Linked DNA regions of Homo sapiens. The protein of the gene in region 1 purifies or fractionates together with the protein of each later gene. This does not show direct contact. Each region holds a gene or a part of one and is shown on either strand. Other genes may lie near its edges.

Region 1 (3,652 bases):
TTTTTTTGAAATTTTTTAGAAACAGTCTCACTCTATCACCCAGGCTGGAGTGCAGTGGCTTGATCATAGCTCACTGCTACCTGGAATTCCTGAGCTCAAGTGATCCTCCCACCTCGGCCTCCCCAGTAGCTGTGACTACAGGCACGTGCCACATGCCCAGCTTATTTTTTCATTTTTTGTAGAGACGGGGTCTCTCTATGTTGCCGGATCTGGTCTTGAACTCCTGGCCCCAAGTGATCCTCCCACTTTGGCCTCCCAAAGTGTTGGGATTACAGGTGTGAGCCACTGTGCCTGGTCTGCTCTCCACTTCTTGCTGTCCTATTGGGCCTTCACAGGCTCAGCTTGGGGGCCGCCTCGCTTGCTTAACACAGTGCATTCCTTCTGGAGGATGGTGGGTTGGTTCTGGGCCCCCCCCTCACCACTTGACCCCACTGCCTGTCAAATTTGTGGGTCCACCTATTGGCCCTGACCTTTCCCTCCCCTTCCGAACCCCTCTTTGCCCACCATTTTGGGTCCTAGGTTAGGTCTTGCTCTTGCAAACATCATTAGGGACTAAGTGTGGCCAGGGGTCCCTGTGACTCAGGGCCGGAGTGAGCTGGCAGGACTTTGGCACCCAGCCTTCCCCGTGAAGGTCACTCTTCCCGCTGGGGACCTGGGGTATGGGACGGGGTGGGGCCTATGGACAGACGCAGCAGGAGCACTCCTGCGAGCTTGGGGCCACAGTCCCTGGTGGGGCAACACTGGGAAGGAGCAGGCTGGCTTCTGGTGGTTTCACCGCCCTGTCTGGGCAGCAACTCTTGAAGAAAACTATATATATATACATACACACAGCCCTTGGAGTTTTCAAGGCAGAAGCTCTGGCCAGGCGCAGTTGCTCACACCTGTAATCTCAGCACTCAGGGAGGCCGAGCCTTGTGGATCACTTGACCCCAGGAGTTCAAGACCAGCCTGGGCAACATGGTGAAAACCCATCTCTAGGGGCCGGGCGCAGTGGCTCACGCCTGTAATCCCAGAACGTTGGAAGGCCGAGGCGGGTGGATCACAAGGTCAGGAGATCGAGACCATCCTGGCTAACACGGTGAAACCCCGTCTTTACTAAAAATATGAAACAATTAGCCGGGTATGGTGGTGGGCTCCTGTAGTCCCAGCTACTCGGGAGGCTGAGGAAGGAGAATGGCGTGAACCCGGGAGGCGGAGCTTGCAATGAGCCGAGATTGGGCCACTGCACTCCAGCCTGGGCAATAGAGTGAGACTCCGTCTCAAAAAAAAAAAAAAAAAAAAACAAAAGCCCCATCTCTACAAACAAGTTTTTAAAAATTAGCTGGGCATGGTGGTATGTACCTGCGGTCCCAGCTATTCAGGAGGCTGAGGTGGGTGGATCACTTGAGCCTGGGTGGTTGAGGCTGCCGTAAGCCGTGATGGCACCCCTGCACTCCAGCCTGGGTGACAGAGCAGGACACTGTCTCAAAAGAAGAAAAAGAAGGCCGGGCGCAGTGGCTCACGCCTGTAATCCCAGCACTTTGGGAGGCCGAGGCGGGCGGATCATGAGGTCAGGAGATCGAGACCATCCTGGCTAACACGGTGAAACCCCGTCTCTACTAAAAATACCGAAAATTAGCCGAGCATGGTGGTGGGAGCCTGTAGTTCCAGCTACTCGGGAAGCCGAGGCAGGAGAATGGCGTGAACCCAGGAGGCAGAGGTTGCAGTGAGCCGAGATCGCGCCGCTGCACTCCAGCCTGGGCGACAGAGGGAGACTCCGTCTCAAAAAAGAAAAAGAAAAAGAAAAAGGGTAGAAGCTCTGTGTCCCAAGTGGGCAAGCAGGTGCCTCATGAATTCATTTCCTCATTTAAAGTAGGTAGATTTATTCTCATTTTTTTCCAATGGGGAAATTAAGGCACAGGGTCTTAAGCGGCTTGCCCAGGACCACACAGCCAGCTGGATTCACACTCCGGGCTGTGCTATGTCTGAGCTATGTTGGATGAACCTGGGGGTCCAGTGGCTTCCTGTAGGCGTGTTCTGACTGGGGGCTTCCACACTGTAGACCCACAGCCAGTGGTCAGCCTGCTAATCATCTTGGAGAGGAACTCCTGAGCTGGTCCTTGCTCTGAGGAGAAGGCAGCCCCAGAGGCAGGCGGTGAAGACAGAGCTGAGAAAATTGACCCATCTCTGGCTGCCAGAGCCCAGGTGTAGCAGAGCTGTTGGGGATCAGTTGCCAGTGAGGGGACCCCAGACCAGACCTTATAGGAGGAATGTAGACTGCCTAACTGTGGGAGGTTCTTGGACCCCAGGGAGCTGGGATAGAGGCAGTGAATGGGCAGGAGTGGAATTGAGGGGCTATCAGGGTGCAAGTGGGATAGGGGCGCATTACCGTCTCTGCCCCTCCCTTGTTTGCGTGTGCCCACTGGGGTAGTCCCATCTGTGCGTGTGCCCACTGGGGTAGTCCCATCTGTTCCTTGTTAGGCACTCAACAGACAGGCCTCCAGGACATTAATTAATGCCAAGCTGCTGGCACAACCAGCAGCATGCCTGTCCCAGGGCCCCGTTCTGGCAGCACAGATACCCAGCTGACCCCAGAAATGCTGCTCCGTTCCCACCCGCTGATCCTGAAGACACAGGGGCCACATTGCTGGCATAACCCTGCCCCCGAGGATGGATGGCAGGGAAGGCTTAGGTGGTGGCAGGCAGCCAGAGACGGCAGCAGGATGTTCCCCCCACAGACTGGTCTCCATCACCACCCTGGACCTTCTCCTTCATCCCTGGCTCTGCCCCAGGCCTGCTGTGTGACCTTAGTCATGTAGCTTACCCTCTCTGGGCAACTTTTCTTTCTCCATCTATAAAATGAAGGGGTTAGACTGGGTCAACACTGAGCCTCCCCCTGAGTCTGAGTCTTTGTTGTCTGTAGATCTGCCTGATTTGGGGTGGCTCTGCTGGTACTCCCACTTCCTGCTCCATATCTACCTCCCCTTGGTATCCCACATTGTCTCCTGCATGTCTTGTTGCCCCAGGGCCCTGACTGGTACTCCTATAATTAACTCCTGCCCATGCTCAGGACATGGAGGGCCTGCTTGGCTTGGCCAGACCCAGTGGCCTGTTGGGGCCCGGGCCCCACCCTCACGGACTGGCCAGCGTTCCCAACCCCAGGGCCAGGGCAAGGCGTCTGCTCCCACAGTGGCTACCTCCAGCCGGCCCAGCACATTCCTCAGGCTTATCTGGAGGCCCGCCCCACTGGACTCTGCCCTCCCACCCAGGAAGCAGCACCCAGAGCTGCGTGCGGAAGAGTTGCAGGGCCTGGGAACAGGCCCTGCGTGAGCTCGAGGTAGTGATTCTTAGCCTGGGGCTGGAGAGAAACAGGTAGAGGACCGGGTGGGGCAGGAGGGTAGAGGGGTTTGTGGGGGCTGCTGAGCTGACCAGGCAAATTGTCTTTAACATTGCAGAGCATGGGGTTCACTCAGACACGCAGGGGTCATCTCCTGCGACCCTCCTCCTCCATCTCTGGGAAGCGCTTCCCTGCTACCCCTGGGAGCTCTTGTACCCAGGAAGGGGCTTTTGCTCTTGGCAAGTTGACCTAAATTTGCACCAGAGTTATCACAGTTGATGGGGCCACGATCCCAAAGTGCTGAGGGACAGCAGCTCCCTGCCACTTCCCTTCCTG
Region 2 (3,652 bases), on another chromosome or scaffold:
TTTATATCCATTTTCTAGCCTTACCATCTTAGTAAACTGTTCCTGGTTTCTCTGTCATAAAATACAAAAACAACCAATTAACTACCTCAGAGGTACCTTTGTGAAGATGAATGACAAATAATGACTGGATGAAAATATTAGTAATAATACTGAGGTGAAATGCAACGTAAACAATAAATACAAACTTTATTTCAAAATATAGAGACAAAGAAGTGAATTCTGATAATTCCATTAGTAAGACAACTGCAAAACATGTAAAACACAAAGTCAAATTCAGATATTTTCAGAGTATCTACACTTAAGACAGTGGTCTTAAATATGATCCCTATATGAGCAGCATCAGTGTCATCTATGAAATTTTTGTTTTTTTGAGACAGGGTCTTGCTCTGTCACCTAGGCTGGAGTGATCATGGCTCACTGCAGCCTCGACCTCCCAGGCTCAAGCAATTCTCTCACCTCAGTCTCTGAGTAGCTGGGACTACAGGCACATGCCACCACACACAGCTAATGGGAAACTGTTAGAAATGCAAATGCTCAGGTCCCACCCCAAACCTACTGAAACTCTGGGGACAGGACTCAGTCATTGGTATTTTAACAAGCTCTCTAGGTGATTCTGACATAGACTGAAGTCTGAAAAACAGAGCTTCAAAGTAGGAAAAATAACAAAAAGGGTTTGTATAAAGCTCAGTAGGGGCCAAATGAAAGAAACTCTAAATGAAATAGATAAGCAGGTTATGGCTTGACTTTCATTAAAACAATACAAAATGAAAAAGTAACCTCCTCCCACAAATATAATTAAATAGGAAATCCAGTAATCATATCTATACAGTCAAATCACAGATTAGGTGAAACTGGATGTTCTCAAAAGCAACTGCAAACTACCACTGGTGAAATTTCACAATGCAAGGAGACCAAGATTACATGAACCCTCTTTTGTGTGATGGCTAAATGTTAAGAACACATTTACTGACATTTTCAAAATTGGGCATGAAAGGTACAAAATCATGGTCTAGAAGTTTTGGTAACTCTTAGGATTTGGAAAGTCTCTCTCCTGCTATTGTTACCTCACTGATGTGAGGAGCTCATTTTATCCAGTACAACTTCAAAGACGTGCTTTATGTAATAAAGTTATTTCTATACCCATAAGAAAAACCAATCTTTCTCATGATCAGTTTTCTAAAAAGAATCAAACTTACAACAAATTTTCTCTACCCTTACAATGGAATTCTCTTTATGTCTTCTACTATAAAAAGAGTCCTTTATTGTCACATCTTGTGCCTCTTTTAACTTAACTCACCTAGGCCTACCAAAGAACATTGTCAAGTTACTAACCCTGGCTGGGGTGCTTCTAAACCATCAATGCCTGGATCCACTGCAGGACAATTAAATTAGAATCTATGAATGAAGGCCCTGGTAGTCAGTACATCTAAGTTATCCAAATGATTCTAACATAAAAACAGGGTTGAGAACATCTGGATTAGTTTAAAGATAGGTACTTCCTTTTTCCTGTTCAGTTCTGAACATTTCTTTTCATCTGTTAATTTGTTCGGTAGTACAGGGAAGGGAAGGGAAATAGCTTTGAAGATCATTATGTGTTAACATATCATATATGCAATTTTCCTTTAATCTTTCAGCAAGCCCCATAAGGCTGACATTGTTATTCCCATACTATATGTAAGAAGATGAAGCTCAAAAATTTGATTTTCTCAGGAGCACACAATTACTAAGTTCTAGAGCTACAACTAAAATTCAGGTTTGACTTCAAAACTGTTTCCCCTACCTTAAGTTTCTATAAAAACTCAATTTCATCTTATAAGTCTTAAAAAAAAATGAATCTCTGAACCTTGACAATTATTTAAAACAACAAAATCATACTGAAAGAAAACAATCTGCATTTACTCTGGCCTGCTTTATTACATAATTTTTTTCTGAGAAAGGTGTGGTTAATTAATACCCTTTCTGAGTAAGGTGTGGGTAATTAATACCCTCCAGCAATGAGAGGTGTTCTACCTCTGAGCTTTTGTTCTTTCATTTAAAAAAAAAACACTGAATGCTTAATCAAATACTCTACTGAACACTCCAGATTAAAAAACAACACATGTTGAAGATACATAAACTTGAATATGAAGTGGGACAGCAATTTATAAGGACTCCCAAGGTTTCTAGCTTTTTTCATCTTAATTTCTGCACACTGTAGGAATCAGATTAAAAACAGGATGAAAGAACCCTTGCCCAAATAGGCCACACAAATTAACTTTTGTGATTCTTGTTTTCTGTCGAGTCCCATCATTTGCTCAAATTAACACATACCGTAAACTGGGCTAACCTTGTCTCTCAACAAAAATAACATTATTTCTTTGTTTTAACCAGTTCTACATAAAAAATTTTTTTGAAGACATGGGGTCTCACTATGTTGCCCAGCCTGGTCTCAAACTCCTGGGCTGAAGTGATTCTCCCTACCTCAGCCTCCCAAGTAGCTGGGACAACAGGGGAAACATCACTGCAACCAGCTAATTCTACATAATGTTTAGATAGATTTTTCCTAAGAGCTCAGTTCTTTTACAATAACTTACAATTCTTTAACTTAACTGTATGATTAATTATATGCTATATAATTTTATAATTAAAAACTAATCTCAATATATTATCTTTAGATTCATTTCAGAAATTAATTGTATATAGTTACGAAGAAGCCAAATCTGTTTCTTCATATAATAAGCTTATCAGTTGTAAATGTCAACATTAAATTCAATCATTTGGAGAGTTTTTCTTTTATAAAGTAATACAGAATGAAAAACTTGCAATATGAACTACTAAACAAAATTTACTTAACAAATATCAAAGCCTCCACAAATGCTTTCCATAATATTGAAAAACATATACGTGATACTTTTTACAGGGCAACAAATGCCTAATTTGGCACTAGTTCAGGACTAAATCAGAAATGTGGATTTCTGTTTTATTTATTTTTTGTTTTGTTTTATAAAATGAGACAGGGTCCCGCAACGCTGCCCAGGCTGGTCTCGAACTCCTGGGCTCAAGCGATCCGCCTGCCTCAGCCTCCCAAGTGCTGGGATAACAGGCGTGAGCCACCACACCCCGCCAGAAATGTAGATTTCTAATCTAACCTAGATGTGTTAAGAAGGAATCTGAACATTTACCAAACATTTAAATGTCATAAAAGGGCTTACATCGATTTTATCAATATACATAGTTAGTAAAAAAAAAAATAATTACACGAGGCTTTTTAAAAAAATATTAATTTATCTAAATTTTGGGAAAATATTGTTCTAACTACCTTTTTCCAGTCTTCTGATGGAATATAATCTTCATCTTCTTCAGATTCTTCTTCTACTTCACTATCTAGAATAAATAAGACACCAATACTATAAAATGACTGCTTATCCTGTCTAAATCTACATATTATTTTTACATCTACCATCAAATATTTGGATATGCTCAAAGATATCTAATGAATTAAGCCAAGATATTTCTAACCAAATAATTAACACCCTATCACTTAAAAAAACAAAACCAAAAAAACCATAAACTTTCTACATAATTGTATTCTCATGAAATGATTTCCTATAAAAACTTAGGGGAAAAAACTGATTTAGAATAAAGATAATATTATCTTACTACATATTTCATG
Region 3 (3,652 bases), on another chromosome or scaffold:
ATTGAACATATACTAAACGAAATTGGTTCTTAACCTTAGCCCCTCCTCCCAAATCCTGCAGAAACAATTGGGAAGAGACAGTGATTGACGTGTTGGGAGAAGTCAGAGAGTAGCCTCGGCCTTCCCCCATTTCTGGTGGGAAAGTTGCTGGCTTAGTAGGAACCATGTGATTACATGGCTTTTAGGGAAAGACAATGTATCCTTAAAAAAAAAAACATTTCATGGATTTTCCTTATAAGTTTTCAACTTTTTGTCTTCCTTTTGTATAGCAAATCCAGTTTGCTGATGACATGCAGGAGTTCACCAAATTCCCCACCAAAACTGGCCGAAGATCTTTGTCTCGCTCGATCTCACAGTCCTCCACTGACAGCTACAGTTCAGGTAGGTGTGAATGAACTCCATGTCCTCTCTAATCTCTCTTCCCTGTTTGCTACCAGTGCTCTTCACTTAGCAATCTGAAAATACCTCATGTTATGACTGCCCACCTTTGTGCTGAAAACTGTTAGTGGCTGGGCAGTGGGAATGTTCTGCAGCCAAGCTAGTAGCTGGGGAAGCTTTTGTCGACTCGAGACTTTCTTCCCCCTGGCTGTCTGTGTGTGTGGTCTGTGGCCAGTGCCCAGTTGGTAGGACTGGGCTAGTTCCCATTCCCACATTGATCCGCCCATTTCAAAAGGAAGAAATCAATGCTATTTTGGCTGACAGAATTGGACTTAAAAAAGAAGTGCATTTTGAAGCACGATTTCTTTGTGTAAAATATACCCTGTCACCTATCTCTTTCTTTCTTGTCTCCAAGACTGCTTAGATTGTAACAATAAAATTAGTATTTTGGCTTCTCTTATTTATTAGGTTATTCTTTCTGTTGGAATATCCTCCCCTGTTAGACTCTGGAGCAGGAAAGATTCAGACTACTGTAATGTAACTCCAGCTCTGTTTCTTTTTAGTTCTCTCCTCCTGTCTTAACTCTCTGTAAATAAAGTCTTTTTCTGTTTTGTATTGTGTCTTTCCCAACTATAGAGCATGTATTAGAAAATTAGCATGGAAAAGAATATAGAATCTTGGCAGATGAATACAGGAGAAAACATTAGGGACATCTAATGGGGCATCCAATACAACCTTGTCATTGTTTAACTGAAGACTCATTGTTAAAAGATTAAGAGGTTACAGATTGCTATTAATGTCAGCAGAGATATTTGTACCAAAAGCCATTCATTGTCCTTTGCCAGAATACCTTTTGCATTGTATTATCAACATTAAGGATTAACATAAATGAAAAGCTGTTATATATGATCCTGGAGTGACAGATAAAAAGTGGTGTGTGACAAGCAGGCTAACTGTAGCCAAGAAAGAAGAAAAATTAATTGTGAAAAATTGAGTTATGAGAGGAAGAACGATAAAACGACTGAAGAAGGCTTTTAAAAAGTCTTCAAAGATCTTGACGGCCATGTTACAGAAATGTATTAGAGCCTTTTAAAAAGCTTAGTGATATGGTTAAAATGTCATAGTGGGGAAGATAATCTTTAGTAGTATTTGTGTTAGCTGGACAGGAGGAGGACCTGTACATAGAAGTCAGTCAGTGAGAGAGTCCAGGTATACTAGCAGAAACCGTGATGAGGAAAGTACTCAATTCAGAGAGGAAAGAAGTGATTTGAGAGGTAAGGAATGATTGTTGTATATCCTCTTGCATATCTGTCAGATAAGTGGTATTTTTAGCTTTTATGTGAAACCACTTTTTAAAGTTGATCATTTTGACAGACTTTCCCAGGGCTATCAGTAGAACCAGAGCTGTTTGCCTTTTGTGCCATTTCTTTCTTTCTCTATTCCTTGAGCACAACTTAGTGTAAAATCCCTTGTAAGACTATCTTATCACTTTTGTCTATATCCATGGTTCTCAAAGTGTGATCCTCTGACTAGCAGCATCAGCAACACCTGGTAACTTGTTGGAACTACTAATGCTTAGGTGCCACTCCATACCTGCCAGATGGGAAACTGGCCACAGGGTCTAGCAATATATGTTTTAACAAACCTTCCATGTGATCCTGATAGATGCTTGAATTTGAGAACCAGTGATCTATAGAAATAGCATTCCTTATCTGCCCTAAATTATTCTTCTGTTTTTGCCAGGTCTGGTTCCAATCCAGATGGGACCAAGTACCTCTATTATCTGGGATTACTATAGCTGCAGGTTTATAATCAGTGGTCCCTTGTCATAGGCACTAATAGCACAGTATTGTTAGGGTGGGTGAAAGAGCTGCAACATGGAAGTACCCACAACAGTTTCATTCATACCACCTATTAGAACCTAGAGGAGCAGAACTGAGAGCGTTGTAAAAGGTAGCTCCAATTAAGGGTGTTCCCTTAACTTAAATGAAAGTCCCTTGGGGACTGCACTCTGTAGAGTTGGGGACCACTGAGGTTTTTCTATCCTTGTTTTTTTCTTTCCTGGCTCTAGCTGCATCCTACACAGATAGCTCTGATGATGAGGTTTCTCCCCGAGAGAAGCAGCAAACCAACTCCAAGGGCAGCAGCAATTTCTGTGTGAAGAACATCAAGCAGGCAGAATTTGGACGCCGGGAGATTGAGATTGCAGAGCAAGGTAAAGAAAGGGAGTGGGTTAGGGGACCAGAAACAACCCTCTTGTTGGCCATCAGAATCCACAAACAACTTAAGACTTGAAAGCTGACTTGAAAGTGTACTGGGAAGAAAGACAGTATTATGGACTTTCGGATAAACACTTCTCTCTCTATGGAACTTAAGTCTTGGGATTTTGTTCTCTCTTCCTTCTGTTCTCAGCATGTGGTGATTACACACAGAGTAGTTTCTGTTTTCCTCCTTGCCCCACCCCACCACTGTATTCAAAGATCTACATGGCAGAATTGACAAGTCCTAGATCACTACGTGGTAGTTGGTTATATGGGATCTTACTATAGCTGCCAATGGCAGAGACCCAGATTGCCCAGAAGCAGCTGATGAGGAAGGGTTTTAAGGTAAGGATGTGGTGACCTAGAGTCTTGTTTGGTCCTGAGCACCCTCTGCTGGAGCAGAGTAAAAGTGACTGACAGTTAAATCTTGGTTTCTCTACCCCAGCCACTCCCAGTAAGGTCCTCTTTACTCTTGTGTTGTTTACACATTGAAGGCATGTTCTATACTGAGAGAGAATAGAGAAACCAAACAGACTGACAGGACATGGTAAGACAGCATAGAAAAACAGAAGTTAGTGGTTTCGGCTGAGGGTACAGTCTTTCTGGTCTGATGATTATATATAGGAATCTATTAGCCAATGCCTTAACTATTTTCCTCTCTTCCCAAATGAATGATGAGACTCACCCTTCATTTTGATCAGTTTTAAGGATTTACTTCATTCTCTGTTCAGTCCTCTGTGTATAAAGCTGAAGCAGTAGAGGAAGAGAGAAACTCCAAGTGGTTGCATGACTGCTCTCCACTATTACTGTGCCGTTGAAGCTGCCAGTCGTCATGGAAATAGGCTTAAAGTTTTTCTGCCTCATCTCACCATATCTCAACAGATCCAGACCAGCCCTGGGGCAGGAACTGATGATACTGCTAGTGCAGACCTAGCTCAAATCCTCTGTTCTTTCACAGACATGTCTGCTCTGATTTCACTCAGGAAACGTGCTCAGGGGGAGAAGCCCTTGGC

Evidence for each region.
Region 2: the proteins of DOK4 (region 1) and MIER1 purify together in Homo sapiens (affinity purification with mass spectrometry; 2 studies listed by BioGRID and IntAct, with this or other methods). This does not show direct contact.
Region 3: the proteins of DOK4 (region 1) and AHCYL1 purify together in Homo sapiens (affinity purification with mass spectrometry; 3 studies listed by BioGRID and IntAct, with this or other methods). This does not show direct contact.

What each region holds. Positions count from the first base shown.
Region 1 is NC_000016.10:57,479,994-57,483,645, reverse strand, and holds part of DOK4 (docking protein 4), read left to right. Parts: intron 1-3,256; exon of another isoform or gene 3,257-3,351; intron 3,352-3,652. UniProt on the Homo sapiens protein: DOK proteins are enzymatically inert adaptor or scaffolding proteins. They provide a docking platform for the assembly of multimolecular signaling complexes.
Region 2 is NC_000001.11:66,959,390-66,963,041, reverse strand, and holds part of MIER1 (mesoderm induction early response protein 1), read right to left. Parts: intron 3,364-3,652; coding exon 3,299-3,363; intron 1-3,298. UniProt on the Homo sapiens protein: Transcriptional repressor regulating the expression of a number of genes including SP1 target genes. Probably functions through recruitment of HDAC1 a histone deacetylase involved in chromatin silencing.
Region 3 is NC_000001.11:110,008,765-110,012,416, forward strand, and holds part of AHCYL1 (S-adenosylhomocysteine hydrolase-like protein 1), read left to right. Parts: intron 1-269; coding exon 270-381; intron 382-2,449; coding exon 2,450-2,593; intron 2,594-3,597; coding exon 3,598-3,652. UniProt on the Homo sapiens protein: Multifaceted cellular regulator which coordinates several essential cellular functions including regulation of epithelial HCO3(-) and fluid secretion, mRNA processing and DNA replication.